Homo sapiens: one gene and its partner. The protein of the gene in region 1 purifies or fractionates together with the protein of each later gene. This does not show direct contact. Each region holds a gene or a part of one and is shown in the gene's direction. Other genes may lie near its edges. The genes, in order: ACAD8 and P4HA2.

Region 1 (3,106 bases):
CTGGGAATTTGTATCTGCAACAAGTCTTCAAGTGAGGCTGCCACAGCTTGTCTGAGAACCACACTTTGAGACCCACCGCTCTGGTGTTAATGTCAGAGTCACAGGCTACCACAGGTTAGACCGCTGCTTTCTTCTGCAAACCTCATTCCAGAAAGATGTTTATGGGCTCAGTCGCCAGTGTTCAAACTGAATTCCCGAGAGTCGTTTTCCTTCCATTACTCTTGGAATTGCTTTCTCACTGAGCTTTATGTGCGTAGGAAACTTCGCCTTCATTCTAACTCTCTCTCCACCCTGCAATAATAAGCAGGAAAACATTTATTGTAGGCCACACCATCACCCACTTACAGAAGAATTGGGGCACTCATCACTGTATCACTTTGTTTCATCATGGACTTTACTGTTGGATAAATCTACAGTTTATGCTTTATTTGAGACGATGTGACTACTGATTCCTCGAGGGGGTTTATATTTCTTTTTGCATTAAAGGCCACTGCTAAAAATGAAGCAAATAATTGATACCCTCCTTTCAGGGAAAATGTTTTCATTCTTTTGTAAGTCAGTTTTCTGATTACCAAAGAAATGTGTATTTATTGTTGAAACCTTATAAAATTAGGAAAAGTAGGCTGGGTGCGGTAGCTTATGTCTATAATCGCCGCACTTTGGGAGGCTGAGGCGGGTGGATCGCGTGAGGCCAGGAGTTCGAGACCAGCTTGGCCAACCCGGTGAAGCCCCGACTGTCTAAAATTATAAAAAGTTAGCTGGGCGTGGTGGTGCATGCCTGGAATCCCAGCTACTCGAGAGGCTGAGGCAGGAAGATCGCTTGAACCCAGGAGGTGGAGGTTGCAGTGAGCTGAGATTGCACCATCGCACTCCAGCCTGGGTGACAGTGAGACTCCATCTAAAAACAATACAAAAAATTAGCCGGGCCTGGTGGGGCCTGGTGGCACATGCTTGTGGTCCCAGCTACTCAGGAGGCTGAGGCAAGAGAATTGCTTGAACCTGGGGGGCGGAGGTTGCAGTGAGCCAAGATCACACCACTGCACTCCAGCCTGGGCGACAGCAAGACTGTCTCAAAAGAAAAGTAAAAGAAAAAAAATCACTCATGTTTCTACATCCAGAATGTTATTTTGGTACATCTCCTTTTAGGCATTTTACTCTGCCTTTGTTGGTACATTTTTAATTTTAATTAGAATTATCCTGTATATACTGTTTTTATTCTGCCTTTTTAAACTTTATATAAGCATTTTTACCATCAGAAGAAGTTTTTAAAAAAGTATTATTTCCTGACATTTTTCAGTACTTTGTAGAGAAGTCTCTGATAATCTCATCTCTCCCAGGCTAAAAGCAATGATTGTAGTTTAAATCTGCAGCTACTCTGAACTAGGCCTGGAGCAGCCTGGTCAGAGCTTTACTAAACTCTCAGACTTTGCTGCTGTGAAATTCTTCCTCCTTCCTCCCTCTTACAGGTAGCAATGAAGTGATGAGGATACTGATCTCTAGAAGCCTGCTTCAGGAGTAGAACCCACACTTGTTCTGGCCTGGTGTTCAGTGCGACTGCAGTCAGTGTTGAGTGGTGCCATGTGGGCCGCTCTATTCCAAAGGAATCATGGATTAGACCCAAGGGCTGAGCTCCTCTAGGGCAGGACCTGCACCCTGTGTGTTGGCACCAGCATCGGGTCTTGGACTGGGGCAGAATCCCCAGTGGAACCGGAAGAGCTGGACTGATGAGAAACATCAGAAGAACACATACTACCTTGTTTTCCTAATGCCAGAAGGGTGACCAGTGAAGATTCACCGTCAAACCATGAAAGTCCTTTCTTGGATCCACTTTATCTTGATTAGTCTGCATTTTACTAGTTCACTGGATCCCTCCTCTAGGGGCCTGGGGACTTTCACTGATGCTCTTCCTGATTCTAGAGCAAAGGTGTGGGAAGGGGAAATGGAGGAATGCCCTCCTGTCTGTGTCGTTCTCTGTGCCACAGCTACAGATGCAGAAGGTTTCTCTGGATAGCACACCTCTGAATGTAAATCATGATAAAATGGATATTTGGAAACTTACTCCTAAGCTGTGATTTAGGGTGTATTTCTACTTCTGGACTGCCTCAATATCAAGGGCTGAGACTTTTGAATTTTGAATATTCGTTGGGTTTCATGTTAAGAAGCCTGTGGTCTAGGAGTGCTATTCAGTGTTTCTTTTCCTGATAAACACTTTGAATATTTTTTTTGTGTTTTTGTTTCCTTTTCTGAAGCTGTTCCTCCTTTTAAATATTTTTAATCACATTGATAAAATCTATCCTTCACCACCTCTGGTTCTACTATAGTTGATTTTTATTTTAAATGTTTAATTGTATTTGATTAAACACTTAACTGGATTTTGGAATAATAAAACTCTCGTCCAATTTGGCTTTTAAAAAGCAGGCTCCTTAAATTATTAATAACTTTGCAAACTAAGCATTGTTTATGATGTATGAAAGTAGAATTAAAGTGAGATTCACAGATGGGACTTCAGGAGACCTTGTTTTGTTTGTTTGTTTGCTGTTTTTTGTTGTTTTTGAGACAGAGTCTCGCTCTGTCGCCCAGGCAGGAGTGCAGTGGCACAATCTCAGCTCACTGCAACTTCTTCCTCTGGGGTTCAAGCGATTCTCCTGCCTCAGCCTCACAAGTAGCCGGGACTACAGGCGCAAGCCACCACGTCCGGCTACTTTTTGTATTTTTAGTAGAGACAGGGTTTCACCATGTTGGCCAGGCTGGTCTCAAACTCCTAGCCTCAAGTGATCTGCCCACCTCGGCCTCCCAAAGTGCTGGGATTACAAGTGTGAGCCACTGTGCCCAGCCAGGGGAGCTCTGTTATAACTTACTATGTTACTCCATCCCCTCATCCCTATTGAAAAGAATACGCAAGACATTAACTACAAGCCAATGTTTAGAGAGAAGAGAATATGTGTCTGTAACAACAACAAATACTGTCTTTTTTGAATGAAGGAAGTTTTGGGTGCTGCAGGAGGACAGGGTGTGGGCACACTACAAAGTTTAAAATGTATTCCTGCCGCCCAAGGCCTTATTTAAGAGGAGCTAAGAGCTGTATTGCAAGGCAATGATATAGATC
Region 2 (3,818 bases), on another chromosome or scaffold:
TTCTTCTTTATCTTTTTTTTTTTTTTTTTTTGAGACAGACTCTCCCTCTGTTGCCCAGGCTGGAGTGCAGTGGCGCTATCTCAGCTTACTGCAAACTCTGCCTCCCAGGTTCAAGCGATTCTCCTGCCTCAGCCTCCCAAGTAGCTGGGATTATAGGCGTGCACCACCATGCCCAGCTAATTTTTGTATTTTTAGTAGAGATGAGGTTTCACCATCTTGGCCAGACTGGTCTCAAGCTCCTGACCTCAAGTGATCCACCCGCCTTGGCCTCCCAAAGTGCTGGCATTACAGGCGTGAGCCACCATGCCCAGCCTAAACATCAGAGAGATTATTATGTAGTTATGGAGACAGGTGCTGTGAACCCCAGGCTTGGGGTTCAGTGGAGGCCTCTCTTTGGAAGTAACATATCAGTTGAGACTTAAAAGTTGAGTGGAAATTAGCTGGTAGAACATGGTTTCTGGCAGAAGAGAGAGTGTATGTAGTCCTGTAAGAGAAAAGGAACTTGGGATGTTGGAAAGGTAGAAAAAGGCTGGTGTGTCTGGAGAGAGGCTAGTGAGACTGACAGGGCCTTGGGGTTCTAGAAAAGAATCTGAGTTTGATCCACAGGGCTGTGAGAAGCCATCAGAGCTTTTGTCTTATTCATTTACCATATGTCTGTCAAGTACCCTTCAGTGAGTCTGGTATGTGTCCTGTGGAAATATTTTTTACCTCCAATTTTTATTAAATTATGGACAAAAAAAGTAAGAGAGCCAGATGGGAAAGAAGTAGTGCTTTGGCCATGAGTCAAGGCATGCTCTGTGGGCATGAGTACAGCCTTGCTAGTGTGGAACTTGTGTTCAATGTAGTTTAAGGCCTTACCATAGGAGAAAGCAGGGCCTCTAGAGACACAGTGCCCCACCCTTCCACTCAGTTGGCCCCAGGAAGGGTGGCTACTCTGGGAAGGTGAAGGTCTGACTAGAGCAGCAAACTACTAGAGCCAGAGAAACAGAGCTGCAGTGGGGACTGCACATGGTGTTGGAAACAGTACAGAGCTCCTGGTCAGGGCACTTTGCAGAGTACAGTGGCTTAGGCAAGGCCAAGGCTAGATGGGGATTCAAAGGGTGGGGTCAGAACAGGCATTTTCTGAGTACAGACTCAGATTATTTTCATCCAGGGACAGCCCGGATGTGGGTCTCCTGTGGGCCTCAACTCTTGAACACTCATGACATGGAGACTGTTCTAATGAATCACACTGGTTAAGTAGGCATGGGAAGAGCCTTTCTTGGCTAAAGGGCTGGCCATGGAGCAGACACCAAGTAGTGTCACTCATGCTGAGAGGAGGGCAATCTATATACCTTGTCATGTCCTTTGTGGCTCAATTGCTCTGAGAGCCTTGGGTAGGAGGGTCAAGCTCTATGTCTTATATTTCCAGATGAGTGATGTAGAAGCTGGTGGTGCCACCGTCTTCCCTGATCTGGGGGCTGCAATTTGGCCTAAGAAGGTAAGTTCTGATTCTTGTGGGTCAGAGGTTGAAGCAAGGCTCAGACTTTACTTTGTCCATGTCCCCCAGTACCATTACCTGGCCTGCCTGATTGTCACTGTGATGTGCCTTAGCCCACCTGGGGTCTGACCTGGTAGCCCAGCTTCTCCCTGTGAAGAAAGGACAGGGAGGGAAGTCCCTTCAGGGGCGGGTGAGTTCCCAGACTTCTACCTCAGAAAGGTAGGTGCTTTCTGGGAAATGTCTCTGTTGCTGGAGTCCCAGAGCCCTATCCCCTGTCCATGGGAAAATGAGGGTGTTTCTGCTCAGGGCAGAGCTTCTGTGATGCTTGCAGTCAGGTCCCTGAGCACAGTCTCTTAAGAATGTGTTCTGAAAGGCCATCTCTTTCCCAGGGTACAGCTGTGTTCTGGTACAACCTCTTGCGGAGCGGGGAAGGTGACTACCGAACAAGACATGCTGCCTGCCCTGTGCTTGTGGGCTGCAAGTGGGGTGAGTGTCTTAAGGGGTAGTGTTGGTGTTGGTGGCCTCAGCTTGGGCTTTGCTTATTGGCCTTAGATTCTGAGCTGGGAGGCAACTGCTGCCAAATTTGCTGAGACTGTCTCCCTTCTTAGGTTTTTTTCTGCTGTTATTACCATCCAGCCATGTAATGTCCATGCAGCTGGTAAATGCCAAGGCAGCTGGTTGGAAACACTCAGAGATACACAGGAAGCTGAAGAAGGCCTGAGGACGAATAGCTGCATAAGCACCATAGGTCCAGGACCCTCTGGCAAGGCTTCTGAGGGAGCAGAGTGGAGAGCTGGAAGCAGTGAGGGGAAAGAGTGTCTCAGGCAAACAAGGCCCATATGGATGGAGGCACAGGCTAAAACCAGCATACGGGTGTGGGGGCTGGCTCCCTTGTCACTTGAAGAAAGGGAGGCCTGTGGCACAGGGGCCAGAAGATGAGGCTGGAGGCTGGGACCAAACTGCAGAGGCTCAAGCTTGAGCCTTATCCTGGGAGCAGTTGTGGTGAGCCTCGGAGAGGCTCAAACCAGGATATGACAGGAAGTGTTTGTAAGGAGATGAGTGTGTAGCCCCCTTGGAGAGTTTTGAAGATAAATAGTGATAGGTTTGCAGATAATTAAGCAAATGGAAAAGAAAACAAGGCAGTTGCTGAATTCAGGGGAAAAAAAGTTGTACAAGAAAGGAAATGTAAGTATAATCTACTAGATGGCTCAGGTGTAACACATGATATAATTATGTACACACTGAGTATTACTTTAACTAAAACTTATGATTTACCTGTACTGGAAAGGTGGGAGGGGATGAGTTTGTGTTTTAGGGGTAGAATAAAAGAATTCCAAAGTTGAAAGTCAAGGAATAGAACTATAAGCATCTTATCTAGAAAAATGAGGTTAAATATCAGAAGAAACAGCTAGAGGAGTTTAATGTTCCCTGGGAGTGGAGATTAGGGATGGGAAGGAGAGGCTTAGGAGGAGTGCTATTTATCATTATAAGCCTTGCGACAATTTTATTTTTTTCAATGAAGTACATGTTATTACTTTATATTTTAAAAGCTCTGTGACTTCAGTAGTGCATTGAAATAAAATTTTTATTCATTATGAGAGAGTCTGTGAGGAACAGAATCATGGTTCCTGTGTGTTTGAAGATATGGCGTGGGGTGATAGTGCTGGCAGCAGCTCTGTTGCTCTTGTGCCCATGGCATACAGACTGGATCTGCTGGTCCACGGCTCCTGAGGTTAATGTCCAAGCCCTCTGCAATGCTGACAGTCTTCCTCATCCTCACACCCTACCTCTCAGTTTCTACCTGCCACCTCCCAGTAATATTAGGCCTCTTGAGTCCCCAACACACGTCAGGGTGGCTTCTGCCTTGATTACTTTCTCATCCTGTTGTCACTCCTGGGACCCTCTTGGTGAGAGAACCATCTGGGTATGCCCATCTTCTTCCCAGGATAACTTCTATGTAGCTTTATATTCTAGCCCTAGGATTTCCTCTTCCCTCTAAGAGCAAGAAACATGTGTGCAGGTTGCCATGGGAATAGAGCCAAAGGGCATCAAAGGTCATGGGCATGAAAGGGCATGATTAGATGCCCTTGGGTGCTATTCCCATGGCAACCTGCACACATGTATCTTGTCCCACTGGCAGAATTTCATACAATTATCTGTTTACATGTGTCTTCCTTACCAATTCTTCAGCAAATTGAGGCCTGAGATCATGTCTTGTCTTATTTGTGTCTGATTCCAGGGCACAGTGCAGGGGGTCATCATGAAGGAGTCATTCATTCAGGCTACTAAACTGACCAATAGGATTGTAACATGCTTGCTTTCTTTTCACAGTCTCCAA

Evidence for each region.
Region 2: the proteins of ACAD8 (region 1) and P4HA2 fractionate together in Homo sapiens (co-fractionation; one large-scale study listed by BioGRID). This does not show direct contact.

What each region holds. Positions count from the first base shown.
Region 1 is NC_000011.10:134,263,442-134,266,547, forward strand, and holds the end of ACAD8 (isobutyryl-CoA dehydrogenase, mitochondrial), read left to right. Parts: coding exon of another isoform or gene 1-55; exon of another isoform or gene 56-504; intron 505-1,466; coding exon 1,467-1,519; 3' UTR 1,520-2,414; downstream 2,415-3,106.
Region 2 is NC_000005.10:132,193,074-132,196,891, reverse strand, and holds part of P4HA2 (prolyl 4-hydroxylase subunit alpha-2 isoform 2 precursor), read left to right. Parts: intron 1-1,411; coding exon 1,412-1,480; intron 1,481-1,869; coding exon 1,870-1,966; intron 1,967-3,811; coding exon 3,812-3,818. UniProt on the Homo sapiens protein: Catalyzes the post-translational formation of 4-hydroxyproline in -Xaa-Pro-Gly- sequences in collagens and other proteins.